Linked DNA regions of Homo sapiens. The protein of the gene in region 6 purifies or fractionates together with the protein of the main gene of each other region. This does not show direct contact. Each region holds a gene or a part of one and is shown on either strand. Other genes may lie near its edges. The genes, in order: GPALPP1, CWC22, PNISR, LENG8, NAF1, PIP4K2A and AHCYL1.

Region 1 (4,021 bases), on a different chromosome or scaffold from region 6:
TATTTCATCATGAAATGATAGAATACTGAGATGGCGATATAAAAAAGAAAAAAGGGGCCAGGCGCAGTGGCTCATGCTTGTAATCCCAGAACTTTGGGAGGACAAGGCAGGCGGATCATGAGGTCAAGAGATCAAGACCATCCTGGCCAACATGGTGAAACCCCATCTCTACTAAAAATACCAAAATTAGCTGGGCGTGGTGGCACATGCTTGTAGTCCCAGCTACTCAGGAGGCTGAGGCAGGAGAATCACTTGAACCCGGGAGGCGGAGGTTGCTGTGAGCCAAGATCACGCCACTGCACTCCAGTCTGGTGACAGAGTGAGACTCTGTCTCAAGAAAAAAGAGAAGAATATTAAAAGTGTCAGTCAGTATACGCCACAATACAGACCCCCTAATAAAAGTAAGGACATGTCTGGCTTCACTTTTTTATAGATATCCTTCTGAACTATGAATAATCTCAAAAAATTATTTTGGGAACATGTAATGAACTATTCCATATCTCTCCTAAAGCAGTGATGCTTGTCGTCATTAAGGAGGCTCTCCTATTGCAATGATAATTTTCCAAATAGATTATAAATTCCATGAGAACAGGAGTTACGCGTTCCTTATATTTCACTTATTTCCCTTTCATATCACACAGAATTGTGATATGCATATAAAAAAATGAACTCAGTATAATACATAAAAATCTCATTACAGATCAGCATTAACAGATGAACATCCACAACTGATTCTGATGACTAGGAATGCTAACTTGAACTCCGATGAAATGAAATGTTACTCCCCCAAAACCAATTCTGTTCTTCTCATTAGTAGACCTGTATTACAAAAAAATTATATGGTATTATGTTTTAGATTGCAACAATAAAATTTTGTGAAGTTTGCTTCCTTCTTGTTGTACACATACTTTTACAATAATCTTGATTTTGCCTACTGACCTACAGTCAAAAGTACAGTTGTCCCTCGGTATTCTCGGGAGATTGGTTCCAGGACCAACTCCCCTGTTTGCAGCTACCAAAATCTGTGGCTATGGCCTTGGTTCCACTTCCCTTGAATATTGTACTTTCAATCTAGAGTTGGTTGAACCTGAAGACTCAGAACCTGCAGATCTACAGGGTCAACTGTATTTACTATCTGGTCCTTTACAAGAAAAGTTTGCTGACCCCATGACATGGTTAAATCATGCAAATATAAAGAAGGGGCACCCAACCCATCTTTTACAGGCAGTAGGTAGTTAACATCAAAGAATGTTTCCTAGAAGCAGTGATGTAGGGGTGGGACCTGAGTTAGCTGGGCAAAGAAGGTGGGGACTGGACGAAGAGTAGTCCAGGCAGAAAGAAAAGCATCTGCAAAAGCCTGAAAGCAAAAGAGTCATCACATTTAGAAAACTGAAAGGTGTTCAGGATGGTTGGAACCAAGAGAGGATAGAGAGGGGCCAAATGTTGCTGTGAGGTCAAGGAAGACTAGGACTGAAAAGGAAGCCTTGAATTGGTGAGGGTCTCAGTGGACTGGTGAGGGCAGAAATGCAATGGGTTAAGGAGAAAATAGAAGACCCAGAGACAGTGAGAAAGAAAAAGATGCAGCTAGAGGGGGATATGAAGTAGAGTTTTCTTCAAAGATGGGAAAGATTTGAATGTTTTGGTTAAATGCTAAGGGCAGGCAGCCCTAAGGACAGGGAAGGGAGTCAGAGTAAAAATGGAAGGATTAGCTTTAGAAGGAAGCAGTATACCTCTTCTATTGTTACCAAAGGGCAGACAAAAAGCTTGGCGTGGATTTAGGATAGTTTTTAGATACAGTAACAGAAAATTGAGGAAGTTCTCTTATGATGGCATCTACTTGTTCAATGAAGTAGACGGAAAAATAAAAGTTTTAGAAAGAAAGGGAAAGTTTTAAAAAGCCAAGGTTGCAGATTGGGGAAGAGAAAGGAGGTGAAGCCTGTGAGGATTACTGGACAGACCTATGGACCCAGTTAGGGAACAGGCCATCTTTTAGCAGCATTAGCTTGTGGAGGCGTGAGGTTTCTTCTAGCAGCATTAGGAAGCCTGGCTGTAGGCTCACAAGGGGTAAACACTTGGACTGATCCAGGGCTGGGCTTTTGTTAGATGGGTTTGGCAGAATACCCAATGGGATAAAGCAGTTGAGAGCACCAGCAAGAGAGTGGATGAATGGGTGGACCATGGAGTCTAACAGGAGTAGGGATGTAAGCACTCCTCTCAGATGGAAGTACTTAGGGATAGAAGTACTTAGGGATGGAAGGCTCAATGAGGTTAAAAAACAAAAATAAAAAGCAAATGAAATGGGAGTAACTTGAGTGAGAACAATGAATGAATAAGGGGTTCTTGCTGAGAATGAGATTTGAATTTGAGTTTTTGGAGCTGGAGTAGGGTAGACTCACTACTCCAGCTTAAAATGTAGGTGAAATTAGTGGAGGTGAAGGTCACTGCAGATAGGAGACTGGAGTTAGAGTCAAAATGGCCAAGGCTCCACTCAGCTTCCATAGAACAGCATATGGAGTCTGTGGATCGCTCTTGAGAAAATATTTGCACCCCAGGGTTTCTAATGACATGACGTTGGGGGACATTTTCCAGCAGTCAATTTTCAGAGTATTCAAATGAAGTTAACTTGTTCCATCTCAGACCTGTGTGCTCCCTCACTCCTCTTTACTCTGGTCATGCTTGTCAGATCTCCTTCTGGGACAGCAGAGTGTGAGGAACACAGGACAGATAACAGACTGGATTCAGGAATCTTCACTTGAAGGTAATCCTGACACCTGCTACCACATGGATGAAACTTAAGGACATTATGCTAAGTGAAATAAGCCAGTCCAAAAAAAAAAAAAAGACAAATACTGTATGATTCCACTCAAATGATGTACTTAAAGTAGTCAAATCATAGAGACAGAAAGTAGAATGGTGCTTGTCAGGAGCTGGAGGGGGGAATGAGGAGTTATTACTTAGTGAGTACAGAGTTTCTGTTTTACAAGATGAAAAGAGATGTGGATATGTTGGTAATAGTTGCTCAATCATCTGAATGTATTTAATGCCACTGAACTGTACATTTAAAGATGGTTAAGATGGTACATTTCATGTTATGTGTATTTTATCACAATTTTTAAAAACTGGAAAAAAAAAAAAAAAAAAAAAAAAAGAGGCTGGGCACAGTGGCTCACGCCTGTAATCCCAGTACTTTGGGAGGCTGAGGCAGATGGATCACTTGAGCCCAGGAGTTCCAGACCAGTCTGGCCAACATGGTGAAACCCCATCTCTACTAAAAATACAAAAATTAGCCAGATGTGAGGGTGCATCCCCGTAATTTCAGCTAGTCAGGAGGCTGAGGCAGGAGAATCACTTGAACCAGGAGGCAGAGGTTGCAGTAAGCTGAGATCATGCCACTGCACTCCAGCCAGGATGACAGTGAGATGCTGTTTAAAAAAAAAAAAAAATCCCGTTCCCAGCCAGCCATTAGGTTTCTTCCAGACTCCATACAAAGGATTATGGTTAGCTGTATTCATGCAGGTCCTGGCTTCTCCAACCCCCATAAATCCTGGGCCCCTCTTAAGGAATTTTTTTTTTTTTTTGCGACAAGGTCTTGTTTTAACACTCAGGCTGGAGTGCGGTGGTGTGATCACAGCTCACTGCAACCTCAAACTCCTGGGCTCAAGCAATCCTCTTGCCTCAGCCCCCCAAGTAGTTGAGACTGCATGTGCATGCTACCATGCCTGGCTAATTTTTAAATTTTTAGTAGAGATGAGGTCTTACTATGTTGCCTAGGCTGTTCTTGAAGTCCTGGGCTCAAGTGATCCTCCCACCTTAGCCTCCCAAAGTGCTGGGATTATAGGCATGAGCCACTGCGCCTGACCAGGAATTTTTACTGTCCTCTACTCCGCCAAAAGGAATCTACTGAGTACCCACTTTGTGCTGGGTACCCTGCTAGTATTGGGGATTACAGAGGCTTAGGACGTGGTTCCTTTCCTCATGGTTTAGTGGGGCAAACCAGCAAACAATCCAGCACAATAACTAC
Region 2 (4,021 bases), on a different chromosome or scaffold from region 6:
AGATGGAAACTGTTTTTCAGAAAGAAATGAAGAATACTGTAAATGATAACTTTCTCAGGAAATACAAGATACTGTTTTATTTTAATTTATCTAAAATACATATGACTCTTTACAGCAAAAATTATGTCTTGAGGGGTTATAATATATGTAGCCAGAGTATATATATGTATAGTATATAGAACTAGCGACCAAAATGGATCTACACTATGCAAGGTTTTCTACATCTTTCGTAAGGTGATACAATATGGACTCTAAGTAGCACATGAAAAGTTAAGGATATATATATACTGTTCCTTAGAGTAATGACTAAAAAAAAAAAGTACAAAATGTAGCTTAAAAGGCTACAAATTAAAATAGAATTTTAAAAAATATTTAAAACAGAGGCTACCCCCTCCCTCACCTGAGGATGAGAGCCCTGTAGGGATAACCCTTATCTCAGCTGGATTTTAGGACCATTTGCCTCAACAAGATGACTCTGTTGAAACCAAATTGCATGACTCCTTCCAAAGCTCCTGTTTTAATGGCTATAAAGGTATAGAGAGCCATAAAACTCAAAACTTTACTCGACTTACTTTTGCTCAAAGATATTGGTATTTTTTTCCCTACCTCTACTAGCACAACCATTTAACATTTCTAACATATCCTTTATTACCTTTAAACCCAGTGTTATTTATACGTACATTTGTTCCCCAACAAATAATACAGCACTTCTGTTATTTGCCCAGCATCTTTCTAGGCACTGGATAGGCAGCAATGAACTACCGTAACAAAATCTGTTCATGTGAAGCTTACATTCTAGGTATAAGAAACAAATCTATAATGATAAACAAAACACTAAGCCACTCAAGCAAGGTGACAGGTTGGACTTTTTTCCTACAGGTCAGTTTTAAATCACTACTTAACAGTGTAAAACTAGTTTGATGTCACTATATTAAACACAACTTGAATCAAGAAAAAATGCATGACAGGAGAATTACTTGTACATATATTGGGGCCCACCTCTGACTTACAAAATCAGAAAATGGGCAGAAAGTGTAGGGGAAACCCATGCATACTTGTTTTATGAAAGTATTCCCAAGGTAACTCCAAAATCCAACTTTTCCCCAAGTCTCCTCAGCTTTTCAATTTTACATAAGAAACTTTGGTTCTCAATTTGTTCTCAAACCATGAGCCACTTAGGCAGAATATAGAGACCCCACAGCCTACCTACTTTATAGTGAAGAACTTAGTTGTAAATCAATTGGAAAGGGAAACAGAAAATCCAAATGTATTAATTCTTAATAATTCATAGGTAAGAAGTGTTTTTTAAACTTGAGAAATTATGGCCACAATTTATAATCACTTATACAATCTTCCTCAATCCTCATAATTACCCTGTTCTGGTGATTTTTTTTTTAGCCATGTTTTTCAGTGAAACAACTGAAGTACAGAGAATTCAAGCAATTTGTCCACGTAAATTACACCTAGTAAATGGCAGAAGCTAAACTTCAAAGCCAGGTTTATCTGATGCCAAAGCCATATATTTTGTCCCAATGAAAATGCCAACACTAACGAATTGAAGCCAAAATGGTAAATTATAAAATGTAAACAAGTACAGACTCTACTATACAGAAAATTATCCTAGCCTAAACTGATCCATTCGTTCAAAGTTCCAGATAGCAAAGACTGTGATTTAATATAATGAAGCACTACTTCTTTTCAAACATTCATAGTAATTTTAAGGATTCCTTTTTATTTAATTTAGCATACCTAGAATTCACTGTGACTAGGTATACTATGAGCAAAAAATAAAAATAAAAAATCACTTGACCCCATTGCACAAGATTTAGCGTTTTCCTTTGCTACTCTCCTGGAGTCTTACACCCGGTTCCTCTTCCCAACCTACTTACACATTTCAGAACAAGCAATTTCTGTGCATTTTATTTCTATTTAAATTTACATATTTCAATTTACATATTTCAATTTAGTGAGTTTTCTTCTGATCGATATCATCTTTCCCCTTTCAACTTTCATCAGCAAATAATTTCTGGCAATAAAGTACAATCTGTTACATTTCCATGTCTCACAACGTAAGTGTGAAAATGACAATATGGTAAAGTAGACTGCTATCATAGTTCTAACAAAAAATGAATAAAGTATTGTCATTGTCCAGATTTATGCAGAATATGCCTGTTCGGAAATTCTGAGTTCAACATATGCATGCTAATACTTACACTAATCGGAAATTCCTGAAATGAGAGCAATTTATCTAGAGTTTATAGCACTCTCTGCTCTTCTAAGCATCACTATGTGAATTTTATGGTGAATTATTAAATTTCTTTCCCCTTCTCACAAGAAAGCAACTCAACAAAACCACACCTGTTCTCCCGAAGAAAGGATATTTTCCAATAGGAGATATAGTATTCACGAGAGCACTATTAAAAAAAAGATAGTTTTTCTCTCAGTTTCATCAAGCATTAGAAAGCAAAATATTTAATAACATATATAAGTACGTCAGACTGTTAAGCAGAAAACTGTGAATTCTGCAATCATCTCAAAAATTAAGAAAATGAGAAAATATTCAACTAATGGCTGAAATGCACTGCTTTCCAGATGATTTCCGTAGCAAAACACTTCTACCATTGTCACTTCGGTGTTCTCAGTCCAAGTTAGAGGAACTTGCTGAAACATATTGTCATAAAATTGCTAAAGGAAAGGGGAATCAATAGTGAGTTACCTTTAGTTGGCTCCTCTGGCTTCTAAATAGTAAAAACAGGTTTGGTGAATTTCAAACATTTTAACAGAGTTCATATTTAAAACAAAAACAAAAACCAAAACAAAAACCTTAGTTGCCCAATGGGGAAAGTGGTAATATTATACAATACAAAATAAAAACTGTCTTAAAATTATTCTAAATGCCAAAATATAATGGGAGGGGACATAACGGAACGGAATTCTCAGAAAATACCTCAACAACAGCCAAGCCCCCAAGGAACGGATTTTCCTTTTCAGGGAACAAATAGGAGTAACAGATTGGCTTCGCTCTTGAACAATATAAAACAAGATTGCTATGTACTTTCCATATCTGTACTGAAGGAAAACTTACTTGTTTTAGAAAAACCGTTTCTTGCTATTTTTTCCTGTCTTAATTTACATATTAGTGAAAAAATTGCCTCATGATATACCTCATAAGGCCAAAAAATTATAATTTGATGTCAGCATAGAATCACAATTTCAAGAAAATAAAAGGGTCAAAATACTCCTGTCTCTTTCTAGAAAAGTCACCAGGTACAGGTTGAAAATCCTTTATCTGCAGTTCTAAAATCTGTAAAGCTCTGAAAATACAAAGATTATTCTTAAGCATGTGGCAACTCACTTGAGAGCAAAACTTAGCATATACTGACTTGATACTTAATGTGACTTGATACAGTGCAGAAATATTAATGTGTTTTGACTAGAGGATGTTACTCCAGACCCCAAAAGGGGGGATTACTTAATATGTAGTATAGGCACTGCAGTTTTCTAAAATCTACAAGATACTGAAATCAAAACACTTCTGGCTCCAAAAATTACAAATAAAGAGTTGCAGAGCTGTCCTCCCTTTTGCTTCATAGTCATTGCATATGCCAGGTGTGCTGACTCATAACCATTTGAATGACTAGATTGCCAGGTTCAAGTACAGGGCTAGAAGTTGTGCAGACAGTTCTGGACATTGTTTTCTGTAAGAAGTAAGTAATATAAAAGCATTTGACTGGTCTGCAACTCTGTGTGGAGAGTAGACAGCCCAAATTTTCAGACACTTTAAGACAGTAAGACACAGAGGAGTGAAAAAAAAAAAAGACATTTTAATGAACCCAGTGACACCATTATCTATACTGAAAACCTCACATTATAAATTGGGAGGTAGTATTACCCCCATTCATTTCCTGTATCATGAAGCTAGTCTATTTTAGGCTGTTTAAGTAACCAAATAAAGAGTTAAGTGATCCAATCATTTGGAAATACTATTAATTTTTTTACGCATAGGAAGATTCCCCAATGT
Region 3 (4,021 bases), on a different chromosome or scaffold from region 6:
GTGTTTATAAACTTGTTGTCCCATTTTCTCCTTACTGTATCTTCAGTAACACATATATAAAATCAGAATCCTCAATATACTTAATGAACGTAATCTTAGGAACATCACTCTAATACTTTCCTATAGGCTAAAATATCTATTTCAGTAAAGTTTTCACACAACCAAGATTTTCACATGGAGTTTCATGTTGGGGATTCTACTTACAAATTTACTTCTCTGAGGTAAACGAGGGCCATCCCCTCCTTCAGCATCTTCTGTGGCCTTTTTTTCTTTTTTGGACAATTGTGAACGTTGTTGTTCCATTCTTTCTTTCTCCAATTTCTTCTGCTTTTCACGTTCCATTTTTTCAAGACCTTCGCGAATCCAAGCGGGAAGAGTCCTGCGTTTTACTGCGTCTGTTTCACGTGGGAAAAATATACGCAAGTCAGTTAAGTAAAATATTTCTACAAACTTGTGAGTAAATTTAAAAAATATCCCATTAAATATCATGCCTTTCTTCAATGCCATCACTTTTAGTAACAGCAGGGACCACTGCTCTAGTGCTTACAATCTGCCAGGACACAATGAAAGCATGTTAAACCATCATCTAATTTAATCCTTACAAAAGCCCTCAGAGATCACTACTATTACTCCACTTTTTTCCACAGGTGAGGAAACTGAGACTCGAAAAAATTAAGTGATTTGCTAGTAAGTTAAAAAAGGAGTAAAGTTAGAATCTTCCTAAAATGTAAAAAGTAAAGATTTATTAACAAATGCTCCTGTCCATTAAATACTGAACAATTTAGAACTTTCCAGATATAAAGTGGCATAAATATGTATTTGTCACTTGAAATAGGCTGGCTCTATAATGTTATTTAAAAAATTGAAATTTTCTGCCAAAATACTTAAGGGAAGTGAAATAACCAGAGGAAAATTAATCTGACAGCAGTGCATCAGATGAACTAAGAGTGGACAGAGATTGAACAATTAGATTTAAAAGGAGAAGGGCTCATATATCTGTATAATGTACTGAAATGCCTACACTGAAGAAAATACCAACATGCTATGGCTAGCATAAATTTTCACTTCATCACAAAATCTGGAATTTAATGTAAAGGTTTAAATAAAATTATTTAAACCTTTTAATTTCAGACCAGTATCATTTTTGTAATTTTAAGCTTTATGACCATAAAAAATAAAGTGTCAATTCCTAACACATCAGAGATACTCAAACAATTTTAAGAAAACAAGACATCCTTTTTATATGATAAAAAAGTCATGCCAATTGTGGTCCACTAAACTAAGTTAAATAGCTACCAATTTGTGGAGGCTCCTGCTTCACAGGAAGTGCAATAGGTGAACGCTGACGATCCCTGAATGATGATGGCCTTTCTCTTCGATTCTGGGGAGGTGCTGGAGGTCCTGGAGGTCCTGGTTGCCAATAAGGAGGATGAAATCCACCTTGCGGTGGACCAAAAGCAGCCCCATGCTGAAAGAGTATTGCAGTTTATTTTTTCTTCAAATTAATACAATATACTCTCTGGGACACACGTGTGTTATGAACTGGGACAGTAGAAATCCATGTGTGCAGCACATCCAAGAATTCCATGGCTCTAATATCCACCGATACTTCTATGGTCCCAAGAACCTAGGCTTACTTGTCTTAAGATTTTCCGGCTATGTAAATGCAAAGAGGCTTCTAAAAGCCAGCTGATAAGCTACTTTCAAGAAGTATATGAAATTTTTCATTCTGAATCCATTTACAAGCTAATCCTACCAACACTAAGACATCAAATAGATACTAATTTCTCTTTAACTAGACATTTTTGTCAATTTCAACATCCTACTTACAGTGAACAAAAAGTGAACTAAACAACTTAAGCTGTTTCTATAATCTTGCAGATATATTCATTTATAAGCAAAGATAGAAGTTAATGAATCATTAAATATTTTCTGCAATTTTGCTATTTTCAGAGGCTTTTCTAGGCCAGCTGCCAATACAGCTCTTTGTCTTGTTTACATGGGATCTACCATGCAAAAGTAGGGTAAGCAGATGCTCCCTGCCATTATATTTCTTCAAACAACATAAAAACTGTTGTATCTGTATACCAAGTATACAAGTATCTGAATATTTATTAATGAGAGGATTACCATCTCAAGGTGAATACTAGATGTCCATTATCAAATCTACCCTAGAATTCATGAAATAATTCTTTCAAAATTTTAAATTATGATAGCAGTTTATAAGTTAATAATTGCAATCAGTTATTTCAAAATGACACCTAGCACTATAATTTAAGGGTAGACCCTGGCAGAGGGAATGAAGTAAATAAAGCCCAACATACAACACTATTCCCCACAGAGTTCTATGTCCCTAGGAATGAATTGGATGCTACAGAGGAAATTATATACAATTCCATTAACATGTCATGTCAGAATGGAAAAAAAATGACACTAGAAAAACAGTCATAATTCTACATAGCACAAGGAATTACACTTAGGAAAATGATCTATATTTTTTATTCATGTCTTAACCATGAGCTATATTCAATTACTGTGCATTCTCTAGTCTTTAACATTTAAATATACCATTTTGAAATATAAATTAGAAAATAAAACATCATATAGCTATTGCACTTATACATTTTTAATTTTTTCAAAAGTTTTCCGTAATGATCTTTTATACCATTTTCCTAATGAAATAAAAAAATCAGAAAACAAATTCTAATTATTTTAATACTCAAAAATTGATAACTGAGACAGAATGTGCTTATTTATACAAGTCTGAAAAGTGAAACACGTATCTTAGGTATTCTTGATGAGACACTTCCAAAGAATGGATTACGTGCACATCTACAATATTAAAGCAACAAAATATCTTTCACCTGATAGTCAAACTGGTTCACTGGCCCCACTGCAAAATTATCGGGTGGTCCACCAAAGTTGTGATTGTTCTGGTTAAATATATGCCTGTTGTCAGGGGCAAATTCCCCACTGTCCTGACTGTTGCTGTCTTCAGAAGGAGGAACAATGTCCATTGGGCCTGGTGTTGGTGGCATCCATGGCTGATCTGGAGGGGGGTGTGGGGGTTGCTGATGCATTCCCCATTCTATTTAAGATTTAGGCATAAAAACATTCAACAGGCGGTTATAACAAAATCAACACAGAATTTTAAGATCTCAAGAAAGATTTTTCAGTAAACATACAGATTTAAAAAACAACTTATGACTTCTTGGTCAAATTCCTTTTGTTTATCTTAAAAATAAGCAATGAACTAAACTGTCATATATAATTCAAAATGAGCTAACTCCACTCTAATTCATATCCTAACCAAATGCCCAAAGTTATTTTTAACAAATGTAACAAAATCCAAAGCACTATTTTTGTTGAATTTTTATATTTGTTTAGTAACAACACCACAAAAATAATACCTTGAGGTTTTATATAATTTCTTTCTTACACGAACACATTTATCCTCACAACATCCCTGTGAGGTAGGGAGAAATTAGGTATTATTTTTGCCAATTTCGGGAGGGAAAATCGAGGCACACAGAGGTAAATCACTTGCCCAGGGTCACAAAGTAGAGTAAAACTAAGGGGTAGGGATGCCCGCGGGAGTCATTTAAGAACTTAAACTTAGGAACTAAAACATTTTCAAATGTGGGGAAATTTCACTTTCAAGAAAGCTAGAAATGAACCACCTCACAGTATCAAAGACTAGAATATTTATGTTTTTAAAAGTAATCTGAATTCTCGTTTTTTTTGTTTGTTTGTTTTAAATGAGGGACTCATTCTGTCACCCAGGCTGGAGTGCAGTGGCGTGATCACAGCTCATTGCAGTCTCAATCCCCTAGGCTCAAGCAATCCTCCCACCTCAGCCTCCCAAGTAGCTGGGACTACAGGCATGCGCCTCTATGCCTGACTAAGTTTTAAGGTTTTTTTTTTTTTTTTTTTTGTAGAGACAGGGCCTTGCTATGTTGCCCAGGCTGGTCTCGACTGAGGTCTCCATTCTTATAAGGAGAAACAAAAAGTATTAATAGGG
Region 4 (4,021 bases), on a different chromosome or scaffold from region 6:
CAGCCACCTGGCCAGGCTCTCAAGGCCTCTTCAGTCTACCGGTCAACCTCTTCGACCAGAATTTCTCCACCTTGGCAAGACTGAGCTCTGAGGCCCAATGGCAGTGGCAGGGCAGCATCCCTGGCCTCCACTCACTAGATGCCAAGAGCATCCCCTTGCTGTGACAAGCGAAAACCTCTCTTGACATTGCCCAGCGTCGCCTGGGCACCTCAATCACCAGACAGAACCATGCGTCTAAACATGAGTCAAGCAACTCATCCCCACCCACAGCAAGCCAGGCGCAATGTCTAGTGAACGAAGGACACTGCAGGGGCATGGCCTGACCAGGGGCCTCTGGCACCGCGCCCAGTGTGGCCTCAACACAGGTGTCTCCCTAAGCGTTTCTGGTGCTCTCAAAGGAGCTGAGTGGGACTGGGCCTTGTCCTGGTAGACCAGAGGCTGTCTAGATGGTCTCTATGGTGGGAGCACAGCGACAAGCTGAGAAAGCAGAGACCTCAGGGTTCTGAGGAAGCCCAGGGCAAGGAGTGAACTAGGGGGTCCAGGCAGGAGAGAACAGGAGGAAGAGACACACAGATGGGGTGGAGAAGAGGCCCCAGAGGCAGTGAGCTGGGAACAGTGGGGAGAGGGAGAGGAGTGACCCGGAACACAGAGGTGACCAACAAGGAGAGCAAGAGGAACTGGAGAGGGGAGGGCTGAATGGAGAAAGATGATGGGGAAGCAAGGACCAGGACAAGGGTTGGGGGCTGGGGGAGGCCTGCGGCCAGGAGCTGGTCTGAGGGGCGGTGCGAGGCGGAAGGATGGGAAGAGCAAAGGCAGAAGGGAGCTTGGCACCACATACGTTTTGATCATGGCCTTGAGGGCGACCTTGCGCTCCCGATCTGCAAACTTGTCCACGAGGTAGCCAGACATGCAGGGTGCATGGCAGTAGAGCCGGAAAAAGCGGTGGTAGTTGCCCAGGGCCCAGGCTGTCCTTAATGCCAAGGCGTGGGCCACGCAAGGATCTGCCTTCAGTTCTCGTGTGAGGTATGCCAGCTCCGTGGTGATGTCTAGCACCAAGACAAAGAGGGTGAAGTCAGCAGGGCTCAACCCTGGGTACCATGGCCTCTGTCCTGGGGACTGGGCCTCACCTCCCGAGTTCTTGGTGAAGATGTAGTAGAGGATTCGGTAGGCAGTAAACTCGCCCACATTGCCAGGCAAGTTCTCGGCGTACAGCGACTTGAGCTGCGTCTGGCACTGGTTAAACTCTTCATGGTCACCCTGGAAGGCAGAGGCACCGAGGGAGGAGAGCAGAGTGAGGGTGCTGAGGGCAGAACGGCAGCAGGAAAGGGGCTGGGGAGGCCCGCAGAGGCCAGCTCACCTTCTCCAAGGCGATCCGGGCATGGGTCTCGTACACCTCCACCGTGAACTCGGTGCGGATGCCCTGCACCTGGGGCAGCGGGGCGAGAACAAGAGTCACAAGGAGCGGGAGGCAGGACTGGCTGAGGCCAGGCCCCTCCCAGCGCGAGTCTCACCGTCAGATCCTGCCGGATCGACTTCATCTGCTCGCAGGCAAACGCGTAGTCCTGCTTCTCTTTCCAGTGGCACTTGACCATGCACAGCGACTTTTTCAAAACCTGAAAAAGGGAACTGAATTCACACTCGGAGTACAACTCAGGTAGCGTGGCCAACGGCTTCCACTTATTTGGTGGGAGAGTTGCAACATTAAAAAAAGAAAAAAAAGGCCAGGCGCAGTGGCTCACGCCTGTAATCCCAGCACTTTGGGAGGCCGAGGTGTGTGGATCATCTGAGGTCAGGAGTTTGAGACCAACCTGGCCAACATGGTGAAACCCCGTCTCTACTAAAAATACAAAAATCAGCCAGGCGTAGTGGCAGACGCCTGTAATCCCAGCCACTAGGGAGGCTGAGGCAGGAGAATCGCTTGAAGCCGGGGAGCGGAGGCTGCGGTGAGCCAAGATCACGCCATTGCACTCCAGCTTGGGCGACAGAGCCAGACTCTCTCCCAAAAAAAGAGAAAACAAACCCACAAGACATGGGTTAAGAGTGGCCACCTCCACACCCATTTCCCTATAAGCACATGGCTGTTCACAGGTTCTGCAGCAGAACAGTGACTACGCCAAACACTGGAAACACAGCCCCCCACGCCCCACAGCCCACGGGCCTGGGAGAAGGCTTTATGCTCCGTGTCACCTAAGCCAGGAACCACGGCCCAGAGGTCAAGCGATTCGCCGGCCAAGCTGCACACCCGCCACGCGGGGCTCCAGGGCAGCAGAGCGCCTTTGCGCTCCTCTCAGAATGCCGACCAGCCGAGGCGTCTCTGGCCGAGCTTCCCCTGCCATACCAGAGCCCCCGTGTGGCCTCTGCCACCCTCCCTGGGTTGGCTCCCCAAGTCCTGAGCCAGCACGGCCTCACAGAGCAGAACTGCCCTGCTGGGCACTTACTGCCACAGGGCGCACGGTGGACGGGTCGGGGGCACAGGTGAGGCGCAGGTAGTGCTTGGTGATGTCAGGGCAGGTGCCCACGATCTGCAGCTCCTGCCAGTCAGGGTCAGCCCCACTGCTCTCCAGGCTGCTCATCTGCAGCACCAGGGGCTCGAGGCGCAGGCGGCGGGAGTGTCCGTGCTGGAAGCGGGCTGCCCGCTTCTGCTTCTTCAGCTCTCGCTCCGGGTCCTCACACTCCAGCGCCGCCATCTTCTTTCGACTGCGCTTGGTGGGCGCCAGATCGTGCCTAGGAAGGGATGAGGGGCAGTGAGCGCGACAGGCGTCTCCAGCCCCCCTTCAGCCTCGCCCCTTTGGCAGCTGGCTGTCCACCTGTCCGGCCCTCCTCCTCCTTCTCCCATGGGTCCCCAGTACCCTCCTCCACCCTGGCCCGTGTGTCGAGCCCTCACACAGTCTCACCTCTTCCCACGCTGCGCCCTGCCTCGGCCCCGATCCATATGGGCCCCTCGACCGCCCCGGCCCTTAGGGGGCGGGTTCCTGCGGCCCACAGGGTGACACTCATTCCCTGAGTAGGAGCTGTCGGAGTCTGAGTGGGAGTCACTGCAGGAAGAAGCAGGAGGGTCAGGCCTGAAACGCCTCCCCCTCCCTCACACACAGCCCCAGCCGGGAGCCTCAGTACCTTCTGCGGAAGTGGCGCGTCGGGGACCTGGAGGAGGAGCGGGAGCGGGAGTCTGTGCTGGAAGAAGAGCTGTTGTCCTTCATGAAGACGTTGCGGTTGCCAAACTTGGTGAAGCTGTTGCCCCGGGCTCGACCGGCACCCCCAGCCCCGGGCGTCCCTCGCTGGGACGGGGCACCCCCGCCCCTTGTCGCCGAGCCTGCCCCTCTAGGAGGGTGAAGGCTGCTAGCGGCCTCCCACCGCTTCTTCTTAGGGCTCTCAGCCACAGGCTCCCGGGTCAGCCTGAGAATACAGCAGGGCAGGGCGTCACCAACCCCGCCAGACACTGGCAGGACAGCCGCCACCACCTCCCTCAAGGTACCGACCCGCCTCCGAAAGGAAAGGCACTTACCCCAGGCGGCTCAGCTACTACAGTGCAGAAATGAGACGCGAACCCAGGTTTTCCGTCTCCAGAGGGTGCGCTTAACCACTGAGCAATGCACGCCTCTCCAGCACCCATGGTCCCCACCCCACCCCACCGGCCTCCCTCCAACCAGGACTTCATCCCCCCAGGATCCAACTTTCCAGTTCATTTCTCTTTGGAGCTCCTGGTACCTGGGACCCGCAACTCTCCTACCTCCATACCCAGCCCATGCCTCTCACAGCACCACCCTCCCACCTATGTCCCCCACCCAGACTAACCCCGGCAAGGGCTCCCGGCTCCAGTCAATGGTATAGGCCGAGCCGTCCTGCAGCCGCGCCTGCAGCACCTCCTTGAGCAGCTTTTCCGTGCGGTCCTTGTCCTCCTCCGACTCACAGGCGGTGAAGCAGCGCTCCACATACTCTTTCATGTCCTGGGGCCAGTCATCCGGCTTCCCAGACAGGTTCCCCCGGGCAGAGGACCCGCTGCGGGAGGACAGATGAGGGGCTC
Region 5 (4,021 bases), on a different chromosome or scaffold from region 6:
CTATTACTTCCTTTGCTTTTATCTTGAATCAGGTAGTATGGAAGTTCCAGAATCCCCTAAGTTGGGTGGAATGACCAAGAAGGGATATGGGTGCCTCCTATGGAGCTGTATGAGGAGAAGTGGGCCGGCCTGAGCCTTGCTGTGTCTTAAGTTGCTCTTTACAGTTTAGCTCTCAGGTGTTAGTCAATCTAAACTCTACACTCAGAGGCTAATGGTTATTTAAAATATTGTTAAATTCCTCTTTTCTACTCTGGATTAGCCAAATTGCTTATGTGAACTTGGTCAAGTTTTCCTGTAACATACCTATTAGTATTGGCTCATGCCACATACTGTCTATTGTATGGCTTCCTGTTATCTACTGCCTGTGATGTTGTTTTACTTAAAACTTTATAATGATTTCATTATAGTTGTGGCTCATAAACACTTCAGAACCTAGGAACAGTCAACTAAAATACTATGCTTTGCTTTTGTCCAAGAATTTTGAATGTCACTTATATTTTAGTTCAAACCATACTGCACAGACCTGAAGTTGGCAAGGAATTTTTCCACTGAAATTGTTTTTCACACTTAGGAAATGGATTCATGCTATCTAGGAAACAAATCCCTGGGAAACAGTCTGTGTACCAGGTTGCAAACGATGATTATTTTACCTTGTATTAATGGATACACAGGAAACTTAAAAGATATTTTTAAATCTCTGACCAAATGAAGAATTGGGTTTGTGTATATGTGAGAGAATTAAACTTGTGAATTGTTTTTAAGACAATTTTAAGTGAAAGTAAGACTACAATAATATATGTCATGTAGGCCAGTAAGAGTGGTGCTGAGTGCACCTCTTCTGTCCTTCACAGTTCTTACTGGACGAGGTCTACTGGATTTATCTAAACCTTTTCAAAGCAGATGTCTTGCTATTTTCTTAAAGTTTTTTGCTTTTACACTTTTTTAAAGCTTTAAATTTGTGATGCTATTAGTGTTATTTCATAATACATTGGCATTTTAATAGTTTTTAATGTCACTACTTCTTTTTAGAGTACACATATCTTCAGAATGGTGGTGCCCTGATAGGTGAGCTGTTTTACGCCTTAATGAAAATTAATGAAAGATTCAGTGCTGTACTGAAATCATAAAATGTGAAGAGCATTTACTATCAAAAATCAAGAACTGAGGATGTGATAAAACAGCCATGTTCAATGCAGTTGGTATAAATTGGTCCAAGCTATTTAGAAAGCTATTTAGTAATTTCCATTAAAACTTTTATGCCTTAGTGTTAATTATCGTACTTTCAGCTTCAATACCTCCACTCCTTACAAATCAATTTTTAGGAAGTCTGAAGTATAGTGATTTATATATGTTTATCATGGCATCATGTATTATGTTGAACAAATTGGAAGCTGCCTAAATGTCCTACAATAAGAAAGAAGTTAAGTAAGTTGTCCTGAGTCTGTAAAGGGGTGTTTTATGATAGCTAAAATTATACTTACAAAGAATATAACATGGAACAACTTTAGGTTTTTAAAAGGGGGCAGTATACAAAACTACAGTATGGTCTTAAAGAAAAAAATAACGTATTATAGAAAAAAGACTGGAAAAATCTATACTGGCATTGATCATGGTCTTATCTCTATAATATACATATATTATCTCGCTTTTGTCCCCCAGGCTGTAGTGCGATGGCACAATCTCGGTTCACTGCAACCTCTGCCTCCTGGGTTGAAGTGATTCTCTTGCCTCAGCCCCTGAGTGGCTGGGATTACAGGTGCCTGCCACCACACCCGGCTAATTTTTGTATTTTTAGTAGAGACAGAGTTTCACTATGTTGGCCAGGCTGGTCTTGAACCCCTGACCTCAGGTGATCCGCCCGCCTCACCTCCTAAAGTGCTGGGATTACAGGCGTGAGCCACTGCGCCCAGCCAGAAAATATATTTTTTAATTCACGTATTTTGAGAAGAAAGTACAATTTGAAACCAAGAAGTTTCCTTTCATTATTCTTAAAACGTTTTCAGAAGTAAAATATGTGGTTCTGCTAAAAGCAGTTCTTTTAGTTAAATGTTAAAGGCTGCACCATCTTTGTGTTTTTTAAACATAAATAACTTCTACTTTATTAGTTGTTAAATTAGAAAAAGTCTGTAATTTTACAAAATTCCTAACACTGTGGAAACAGCAAAAGTGATTTAACTCCTATTGAAGTCAGAAGCTTGCTTTTATATTTCCCATCTGATGATTCCAAATGTATACAGTTTTCTCAAAAGTTACCAATTATAATCCTTTTCTGTGTACTTTACAAGTTAAATGAGCAATAATTTAAAAAAATCATAATTTGCATCGAGTTGGTACCATCAAAATGATTTGAATTTGGTGAGGAACAAACTTGTTACTATTGTTTCACATTCATAGAAGGGAAATCTGGAATGAGCGAGTGCATTTTAATCAATATATGAAGACTGAATATGTAAAAATGACATAAATATAACTAAAAAATTATTTTATTGCCCTAACACTGACAAAATTACCTTGTTCTGGCAATTATCAGTGGGATTTTTAAAAGAAAACACTGCTGACTTTTCAAATAGTTATTTTACATGTTAAAAGAGGCCTTTATGTTTCTATTACAGATATTCGAGATATTTGGACCTGTTGCACATCCATTTTATGTGTTACGGTTTAATTCTTCAGATCACATTGAGAGTAAAGGTATTAAAATAAAGGAGACTATGTATTTTGCTCCATCAATGAAAGATTTCACTCAATATATATTCACAGAAAAACTAAAACAGTAAGTACTTTACCGGCATGTTGTTCTTCACTTACCTAACGTTTATATTTTAAGAATAATTCTCAGTGATGTAATTTCTTACAGTTATATTGTGTGTGTCTTGCAAAGAGTTCATTTATCTTCCTAATAATATCTTTGAAGCCTACAATTTATTTTCAGATTTTGTACGTAGAATTCATATCTTTTGTAAAAAATGAGATGATCAGCCATTAAGAGCACATTTGAGCCATGTACACTTTCTGATTCTAGTTCAGTGTTTTTTCCATTATGTACATTCTTTAATGTACTTACTATTTTAGTATTAGTACTAATATTATTATCATTTCTTAATAACTTTTTTTTCAGTTAAGTAAAATTCTCTTTGGATTCTATTTAGGGGCCTTGCTCTTCAATAAAACTTTAAAATAGTTTTCAAGAGAAAAAAAATGAGTGTTATCTCTTTATTTTGCTTATAAATTTTAAGTTTGTAGAAGAGACAACTAACACGTGTCCCTGAAAAATTGTGTAGAAAGTTACGGTGTATGGAGTTGACCTAACCAACAAACCAGTGCTCTCCATTTTGTCTATCAATAATGCTAAGTGATTTCTGTGGCATGTGACCGCAATATTTTTTTATATTTGTGCTCCCATTGGTTGAATATTTTTCAAATGTTAGCTGTTGCCAGCTGTTAGTTGTAGAGCTGTTTGTATCAGCTAAACTTGTTATAATTATGTTATTTAATTTTTTATATCAGCAAATAGCATATGAATTTAAGATTTTTTTTTAATAAAAATAACTTGAATGCTTTCGAATGATGTAATGAATATGAGCCACTAAAAATATTTTCAAATTGGGAGTGGAAGAAAAGACTGCCAAAGACTGGGGGAAGGTTAAATCCAGAAAGACTTTGCACTCAGTTTGACACAGAAGTTCCTTTTAGTTCTAGCTCTTCTTTTATTGGAGACTTAAAACCTAGGCGATACATTTTTATAGATGTTGTTTTTGCAGGAAAACAAAGGAACTTTGGTCACTGAGTAACTTTGGTATTATGTCAAAGGTACCAACCCCAGTTGCATGGCATAAGAAGATTACTTATACCACTTACATGTTAAATCAAGTCTCAAGTCACCAAATTTCATTTATTTCAGAGATGAAAATTTTGATCCTGATAATTGATTTAACTCATGTTTAAGAATCTACATAAAGATCTGGAGGAATATTTTGCCTAAGTTATTCTTCACATTGCATAAGGTTATTTTCTTAAATAA
Region 6 (4,021 bases):
GGAATTGCAGGTGATGGTGGTGGGTGGATCCTGCAGTTACAGTACCATGTAGGATGCTGGAAAGGTGTGATTGGAGCTCGGGAGCCACTAGGGCTGGGATAGACCATTGAGACCTGCCCGTACAGAATCGGTAAGTCAGATCTCCACCGGAGGAGCAGGGACACTGGGGACACTTGGCTTTGAGGGAAGGACAGAGGAAGAAGAAACAGGAGGAGAAAACAGAGGTCGGCACAATTAGATGTTCCCAAGTGCTTGAAAGTCATGGCTGTGCTTGTGGTTGATTGCGGGTGGCTGTGAAAGCTTAAAGACTTAAGGAGTGAATGAGTGGAAGTAGAGGCAATTCCTCTTTTTTGGAAGGTAAGTAGAAGGAAGGTGAAAGATGCCATTTTGTTAGGAATCCCTGGGGAGTTTCCTTGAATCCGTCTCTTCGTTTCCATTCTCACTTCTGTCACTCCTAACCAGATTTGTTTCCCTCTTTCCTAGACTGATATTAAACCCCCCTAGCTTATTTCCCTGTGTCTGCCTTTATCCTCATTTCTTTTCTTTTTTGTACTAGGAACTCCTATGGCAGTCCAGTGAAGGCCATAGACTCCTCAGAATGAGGCTTTTAAAGGAATAAATGAAAATACAGAGGATATGTCCTAGCAAGTTCAAGGATCCTTTTAATTCTATCCATGGACCACTTGGGAGTTCATGGAACCCCATCAAGAACCCTTGCAAGAATAAGATGGGGATAGTGTGGGGTGAGAAAGTGGGGAGAGCACGCAGCAGCCAGGAAGAATTCTTGGGGGGGAACACGCATAGGCTGAATTGATTACCCGCCTGGGTCACAGTGCCTAGTACTTGGGATTCACAACGGTACCGTTAACCACTGAGCTGTGCTGCCTGGGCCAAGCTCAGGAATCATTCATTTCTTTGAGTTCTTTTATTTTCTTAGTCTTAAGAGCTGTTCTTCTTGGATGGACAGAGTATTAGCTGTTAACATGGGAGAAAACTACTTGAAAACCAGTTTTTCCCTTCATAGAAAGAAAATCATTGTTAATGTTCAGAGCATGTAGGGAGAGAACCAGTACATAATTTATTTAAGAAAAATGTTGTAGGGAGTTTTAAAACAGTAACTTACCTAAAGCTAAGCCTCACAATTCTAAATCTTTATAGTTTTTCAGCTACCTGGGCACAGTGATTAAGAGCTCTGGAGTCCTTGTTCGGTTGGCTATGTGACCTTGAACAAGTTATTTTGCCTCTCAGTTCCTTGATTATAAAAGGAGGTAATAATGGTACCTACTTTGGAAGTTTGTTATATGGATTAAATCAATTCATACTTGTAAGATGCCTAAATAGTTGCTGGCACATGGTAAGTTCTTAATGTGCTAGCTGTCATTATTACTATCCTTTAAAATAGAGACAGGGTCTTGCTGTATTGGCCAGGCTGGTCTCAAACTTCTGACCTCAAGCAATCCTCTCACCTCAGCCTCCCAAAGTGCTGGAAATAGAGCCTTGAGCCACCATGCCTATCCTATTTTTTTTTTTAATATCTTAAATGCTAAGAGGTAGCAAATTATCAGATTGTATGCTAAATCAATGGTTACTTTATCCTGTTTTGTAGTAGAACATCATCGTTGTTCTTGGCATCCTTGTGTATTTTTGAGTTATGAATTATCATTTTAGAATTACCCTTGTGCCCTTGCTTTGCTTTCTGTATCTATTTTGTTATGTTCTTTCTTGTATTTTTCACACTTCCACTAGCGATTAGGTTCTTTGAAGTGTCAGAAATCTAATTCACATCCATTAGTTGCAAGTTATGTCAGCTATTGACTTGATATTTCACCTTGTCTTTAAATATGGAGACACTGCAAGATGCTTCAGATGCAAAATGAATATATTGTGGACCTTGCTCTCAAATTGTGCATAACTACAGGGGACACAGACGTAAAATAAATATATGTGTAAATAACTACAGTGTCCAGAATGCTAGGGGTGGAAGGTATTAAATAGACCGTGCAGAACATTGAGCAAAGGCATGACGTCGGTGAAGGGCTTAGACATGAGGCAGTTTGGGAGAAGAGCATTTCAGGCGGAGGGGTCAGCTGGTGCAAAGGCCGTGAGGCTGGTGTTTGCTTGGCTTGTTATGGCAACTGCAGGAAAGCTGGCATGGCTGGAGCACAGCAAGAGGGGGATATAGTGGTAGGAGATCTGCCAAGGTGCTAACCAGGACTGGATCATGATTACTTCTGCCTGGGGGACTTGGAGAATCCTTGAGAGGAGGTAACAATGAGGAGGACCTTGAGGATTAGATAGAATCTCCCAGCTGCAGAAGATGGGTGATATGGTTTGGCTGTGTCCCCACTCAAATCTAATCTTGAATTGTACCCATAATCCCCAGGTGTTGTGGGTGGATCAGCTGGAGATAATTGAATCATGGGGGCAGTTTTCCCCATCGTATTCTCGTGATAGTTAGTTCTCACGAGACCTAATGATTTTAAATAAGGAGCTTCTCCTTTTGCTGGGTGTTCATTCTTCTGCTTGCTGCTGCCATGTGAAGAAGGATGTGTTTGCTTCCCCTTCTGCCATGATCGTAAGTTTCTTGAGGTCTCCCCAGCCCTGCAGAACTGAGTCAGTTAAACCTCTTTCCTTTATAAATTACCCAGTCTTGGGTATTTCTTCACAGCAGCGTGAGAACAGACTAATACAATGGGGAAAGGCATATGCAGCTGAGGGTCCGACAGCGGGCAAAACCAAGCAGAGCGGAGAATGTGAGTAGTTGGCTTTGGGTGTGGCCACAGTGGCAGAACCCAGTAACATGTTAGAAATGCAGAGCTTGGGCCTCTGCAGACCTGCTGGAGCAGAATGTACATTTTAACAAGACATGTTGATCGTCAGCATATTTAAGTCTGAGAAACACCCATCAGGGTAAATCTTTGGTTTCAAGCCCTGAGATTCCTTAGATGTGCCTCAGGGGCTGGTGGGAGGGGGCCAAGCTGGTGGGGGAATTTAGGCCTACCTCAGTTTCCTCCAGAACAGCCTTGTTTTTGTCCTCATTGTCATCTCTCTGTCCTTTTTTTTTTTTTTTTTTTTTTTTTTTTTTTTTTTTAACTGGGGTACTGAATATAATACGTAAAGGGGGTAAAAAAGATCCTGCAGCCAAGAAAATTGAAAACCACAGAGGAACATAAAGGGAGTGTCAGGAGATGGTTGAAAGAGTAGTTTGAGGCCACCTTTGAAGGGCCAAGTGGTTGATGTTTGCCAGAGAAAAGCCAGCAGTTCTGACCAGGGTTACTTTAAAATTTGCCACAAATCTCAAATGACACTCGACCCGGAAGTGTTACTGCCTCCTTTAATATGTTCTCCACTCTCTGAAGTCATTTCTTCCTTTTCACTTCTCCTTGAACTTCACCTAGTGTCCTGTCCCCCACTTCCCCCACCCCGTCCTTCCCTCAGCATATAACCTCATTTAGAAAGCATTGAACAAATAGAAGCCGTCAGCTTCCACTCTTCCCACCATCCCATCTAAATTTTGGACAGCTGGGTCCGTCAGTCTACAGACATGCTGGAGGGGCTGCCCTGCCTGGTTTTGTAGCTGCTAGCTATATATGGCAATTTAAATTTCAGCTAATAAAACTTAAAATTCAGTTTCTCATATCAAGTGCTCACTAGCCACATGTGGTTAGTGGTTACTGGATTGAACAGTGCAGATATAGACGATTCCCACCATTGCAGTGTCTTCCACTGACATGGCTCACCATTCCGGGGCCGCCCATCTTGAAAGCAAAATAAACTACAGTAACAGCAGAAGCTCTCCTTCACCCTTAGTCTCTCATTTTAGTGTCTTCTCGTGTTTTCTGTTCCTTTTTTTTTTTTTTTTTTTTCAGATGAGGTCTTGCTTTTTGGCCTGGGCTGGAGTGCATGGTGCAATCATGGCTCACTGCTGCCTCAAACTCCTGGTCTCAAGCAGTCCTGCTTCAGACTCCCTAAGTGCTGGGATTATACATGTGAGCTACCACACCTGCCCTGTTCCTTTTCA
Region 7 (4,021 bases), on a different chromosome or scaffold from region 6:
GTAGAGGAAGAGAGAAACTCCAAGTGGTTGCATGACTGCTCTCCACTATTACTGTGCCGTTGAAGCTGCCAGTCGTCATGGAAATAGGCTTAAAGTTTTTCTGCCTCATCTCACCATATCTCAACAGATCCAGACCAGCCCTGGGGCAGGAACTGATGATACTGCTAGTGCAGACCTAGCTCAAATCCTCTGTTCTTTCACAGACATGTCTGCTCTGATTTCACTCAGGAAACGTGCTCAGGGGGAGAAGCCCTTGGCTGGTGCTAAAATAGTGGGCTGTACACACATCACAGCCCAGACAGCGGTGAGTTTGTTGGAAGAAAAGAGGGACTTCTGATAAGGGGAAGAAAGAAATCAATTTTTTTTTTTTCACTTTTCCTTTCCTAACTCGCCAACCTCCAAATGCTAACTATTAATAGGATCTCCCTGTTACACAATAATGGGGTTTTCTGGGTTTTTTTTTAATATGTAAACCCACTTTCAGCAAACTTGACCTAGGAAAGTCTAGATTTGCAAACATATGATTGTTATAAAATGTTATAAAGACTTTTAGAAACCTATGTTTTATGCAAAGTTAAATACCAGTGCACCACCTCGCTGGAGTACACCCTTTTGTAACTTTCCAGTGTAGCACCTGTTGGTGCAGAGTTGATAGGTATTGCTATCTTGATGAGGCTTGCTCTCCATTCCTGGGTGGCCCTTCTCTTCCTCACCCTGTCTTCCTACACTTCTACACAGGTGTTGATTGAGACACTCTGTGCCCTGGGGGCTCAGTGCCGCTGGTCTGCTTGTAACATCTACTCAACTCAGAATGAAGTAGCTGCAGCACTGGCTGAGGCTGGTAAGTTCGGTTTTTTCCCACCAACTTTGCCCCAAAATAGTTATCCAAACATATAACTTTTTTGTATCAAAATTGTCATTACAATATCATATATGTCTAGAGGCTATAAAATTGTGCATGATAAAAACCTCAACAGGAAGAAAGTGGATAATAAAATTAAGATGGATATCCATGGTGGAATATTATGTAGTCATTAAAAATGGCCTTTGAAAATAATCTAATGGCATGGGGTCATGCCCAGTTCTAGTGTTAGTTGAACGAGGAAGAATGTTAAACTATATAAGTGCCATCAATTTTGTGAGAGAGCACAAGTAAGAAGTACCTTTCATATTGATAGTGCATTAAATAATTTGGTATTCAGTATGGCATTGAAAATATATGAGCTATTTGTGAGTTTAATTAAACGTAAAATAATTTTTTATTATTCAGGCCAGGCCTGGTGGCCCACGCCTATAATCCCAGCACTTTGGGAGGCCGAGGCGGGCAGATCACTTGAGGCCAAGAGTTCAAGAACGGTCTGGCCAACATGGTGAAACCCCACCTCTACTAAAAATACAAAAGTTAGCCGGGAGTGGTGGTGTGCGCCTGTAATCTCAGCTACTCAGGAGGCTGAGGTAGGAGAACCACTTGAACCTGGGAGGCAGAGGCTGCAGTGAGCCGAGATCATGCCACTGCACTGCAGCCTGGGCGACAGAGTGAAACTCCATCTCAAAAATTAATAACAATAATAATAATTTTTATTATTCAAATATTCAGAAGAAAATCACCGTGAAGTTTCTTTGAGGACCTCTCATCTTTCTTTCTTTTTTTTTTTTTCTTAAGATGGAGTCTTACTCTGTTGCCCAGGCTGGAGTGCAATGGCGCAGTCTCGGCTCACTGCAACCCCTGCCTCCTGGGTTCAAGTGATTCTCATGCCTCAGCCTCCTGAGTAGCTGGGATTGCAGTGGCATGCCACCACACCCAGCTAATTTTTGTATTTTTAGTAGAGATGGGGTTTCACCATGTTGGCCAGGCTGGTCTCGAACTCCTGACCTCAAGTGATCTGCCTGCCTTGGCCTCCCAAAGTGCTGGGATTACAGGCGTGAGACACCACACCCAGCCGGACCTCTCATCTTTTTAAGATCCTCAGAAAGCAACTTTATAATACTTTTGGGTTTTTTTGTTTATTCTTTTCTGATAAGTGTTCACTGCAAAAAATTTAGGAAGTTCCCCAAAACCCTACAATCCCACTACATAGAGTATTTGATTAATGTTTTTCCTTTTCCTTTCTTCTACTTTACATAAATTCTAATATGTATACAGTTTTATAACCTAAATACAATATTTTCAGACGTAGTTTTCCATGTCACTGAAAACTTTGACAGCATCATTTGTAATAGTCATTCATATGGCTATGTGATTTCACCTCACTATTTTCCTAATGGAGAACATTTAGGTTGTTTCAAGATGTTTACTAATATCAATAATGCTCCAGTTAACAACTTTTATTAATTCCCACTTCATTTTATCTCCTTCTAAGTATAAAATTAGTCCAGAGAAAGGAACACTTTAAGGTTCCAAACTACTTTTAAAGCAAAAATTCCTTAATTTCTTAACCTAATTAATTTCTGAACCAAAAGTGATTCTTTGACTTTTGGCTCTGAATTTTTTCCCTTCTGAAATTGTTTCTTTTGCCTTTTTCTCTTCACATGGATCTCAGAAAGTGATTTGGTACAGGACACTCCTCAAAGGAGGAATCAGCTGATTCATTTCTGTCTCTACAGGAGTTGCAGTGTTCGCTTGGAAGGGCGAGTCAGAAGATGACTTCTGGTGGTGTATTGACCGCTGTGTGAACATGGATGGGTGGCAGGCCAACATGGTAATAATGCATATACATCCTACACTTTGACAATAGATTTATTTCCTTTTTTTCCCTCAAAGCATGGTTCCCTAAATATGTTTTGGATGTTTGGTCTTATGCACTGACTTTGTTGCTAAAGTGTTTAGCTTGATACCTATTCAGAATGGGTCTGAGTACTGAATGGAAAGGTGGGGGAAGGGTAAGACTAGCTGAACACATGGCTCAAACACACCAGAACAAAATAGTGGTGCTTCTTTGGAGTAGGATTCTGCTTTCTTTCCTTCCTGCCCCAGTTCTCCTTTTGCATTCAAAGGGGCTATATATTTCAAGACTCTAGACTAAAAATGAGTCTGTGATTAGCTTAATACTCATCACTGTAGCCTAAAGCAAACCTAGGAATCCTTTTAACCATTTTACACCAACAAATTTGACTGTATTTCCACTCTCTAAGCCTGCTCTAGGGAGCTCTGAGGAGTACTCTTCCAAAACATACAGGGCTCTCTTACTAGTACAGAAAGTGGGTTCAAAGTTCCCCCCAGCCCTAGCAGCCTGAATGCCCATAGAAGTCTTCTGGCTGTTCTATAGATCCTGGATGATGGGGGAGACTTAACCCACTGGGTTTATAAGAAGTATCCAAACGTGTTTAAGAAGATCCGAGGCATTGTGGAAGAGAGCGTGACTGGTGTTCACAGGTAACAGATTCTGGAGTAGCTGCCCCTTGTGTCCTTGCCTCAGCAAACTCTCCTGGTCTCTGTTAGGCTTTAGGACTGTGTTTCAGACTTATAACTAAATGGGAATATCTTCATTAGATAAAATTTTGAGTTTTTACTTTTGAAAAATCAAGTTGATCCTAGAAGGAAGTTATTTCAGGTTCTAGTTCATACATTTTTCTCTCCCATTTACTCCATTGAGTGATTCTCAACTAGTGTTGAGGGGCGGGTAGGGAATAAATGTATCTTGAAAAACTGTATTCAATATTGTATTATCATTTTATATTTGAAATATGAAAAACAATCCTATTGTAAAACTACATGTTATACACACTACAAAAAGTAAAACTGGGCAAAATATTCTTGGCTTGTTGGAATACTGAAAAGATATCTGAAAGAGTGTTTCTTGGGGGCACATTGCGCATGCTTACTCACACACACACGGAACCATATCAGAATCATTGATAGTCTTTGTTTATCAGAAGTAGGCATGGGTTTCTATTGAAAAATGCTGATCAAAGGAAATAACACTCCCTATAAAGGGAAGAGAAGTACATTTCTTCAATTGAAAGGCTTTTTTTTTTCTTCCAAAAAAGGGGTAAAGGGAGAAGAAAATGAAAAGAAGTGTGG

What was found.
Region 1: the proteins of PIP4K2A (region 6) and GPALPP1 purify together in Homo sapiens (co-immunoprecipitation; 3 studies listed by BioGRID and IntAct, with this or other methods). This does not show direct contact.
Region 2: the proteins of PIP4K2A (region 6) and CWC22 purify together in Homo sapiens (co-immunoprecipitation; 3 studies listed by BioGRID and IntAct, with this or other methods). This does not show direct contact.
Region 3: the proteins of PIP4K2A (region 6) and PNISR purify together in Homo sapiens (co-immunoprecipitation; 3 studies listed by BioGRID and IntAct, with this or other methods). This does not show direct contact.
Region 4: the proteins of PIP4K2A (region 6) and LENG8 purify together in Homo sapiens (co-immunoprecipitation; 3 studies listed by BioGRID and IntAct, with this or other methods). This does not show direct contact.
Region 5: the proteins of PIP4K2A (region 6) and NAF1 purify together in Homo sapiens (co-immunoprecipitation; 3 studies listed by BioGRID and IntAct, with this or other methods). This does not show direct contact.
Region 7: the proteins of PIP4K2A (region 6) and AHCYL1 purify together in Homo sapiens (co-immunoprecipitation; 4 studies listed by BioGRID and IntAct, with this or other methods). This does not show direct contact.

The regions. Positions count from the first base shown.
Region 1 is NC_000013.11:44,995,912-44,999,932, reverse strand, and holds part of GPALPP1 (GPALPP motifs-containing protein 1), read right to left. Parts: intron 1-4,021.
Region 2 is NC_000002.12:179,997,015-180,001,035, forward strand, and holds part of CWC22 (pre-mRNA-splicing factor CWC22 homolog), read right to left. Parts: intron 2,893-4,021; exon of another isoform or gene 2,717-2,892; intron 1-2,716. UniProt on the Homo sapiens protein: Required for pre-mRNA splicing as component of the spliceosome. As a component of the minor spliceosome, involved in the splicing of U12-type introns in pre-mRNAs. Promotes exon-junction complex (EJC) assembly.
Region 3 is NC_000006.12:99,407,877-99,411,897, forward strand, and holds part of PNISR (arginine/serine-rich protein PNISR), read right to left. Parts: exon of another isoform or gene 3,089-4,021; coding exon 2,865-3,088; coding exon of another isoform or gene 2,841-2,864; exon of another isoform or gene 1,470-2,840; intron 1,469-1,469; coding exon 1,297-1,468; intron 396-1,296; coding exon 205-395; intron 1-204.
Region 4 is NC_000019.10:54,455,339-54,459,359, reverse strand, and holds part of LENG8 (leukocyte receptor cluster member 8), read right to left. Parts: intron 3,997-4,021; coding exon 3,793-3,996; intron 3,394-3,792; coding exon 3,115-3,393; intron 3,036-3,114; coding exon 2,895-3,035; intron 2,725-2,894; coding exon 2,439-2,724; intron 1,614-2,438; coding exon 1,512-1,613; intron 1,427-1,511; coding exon 1,358-1,426; intron 1,258-1,357; coding exon 1,128-1,257; intron 1,047-1,127; coding exon 839-1,046; coding exon of another isoform or gene 454-838; exon of another isoform or gene 1-453.
Region 5 is NC_000004.12:163,138,975-163,142,995, reverse strand, and holds part of NAF1 (H/ACA ribonucleoprotein complex non-core subunit NAF1), read left to right. Parts: intron 1-2,612; coding exon 2,613-2,773; intron 2,774-4,021. UniProt on the Homo sapiens protein: RNA-binding protein required for the maturation of box H/ACA snoRNPs complex and ribosome biogenesis.
Region 6 is NC_000010.11:22,704,497-22,708,517, reverse strand, and holds part of PIP4K2A (phosphatidylinositol 5-phosphate 4-kinase type-2 alpha), read left to right. Parts: intron 1-3,092; exon of another isoform or gene 3,093-4,021. UniProt on the Homo sapiens protein: Catalyzes the phosphorylation of phosphatidylinositol 5-phosphate (PtdIns5P) on the fourth hydroxyl of the myo-inositol ring, to form phosphatidylinositol 4,5-bisphosphate (PtdIns(4,5)P2). Has both ATP- and GTP-dependent kinase activities.
Region 7 is NC_000001.11:110,012,159-110,016,179, forward strand, and holds part of AHCYL1 (S-adenosylhomocysteine hydrolase-like protein 1), read left to right. Parts: intron 1-203; coding exon 204-304; intron 305-738; coding exon 739-841; intron 842-2,604; coding exon 2,605-2,699; intron 2,700-3,266; coding exon 3,267-3,373; intron 3,374-4,021. UniProt on the Homo sapiens protein: Multifaceted cellular regulator which coordinates several essential cellular functions including regulation of epithelial HCO3(-) and fluid secretion, mRNA processing and DNA replication.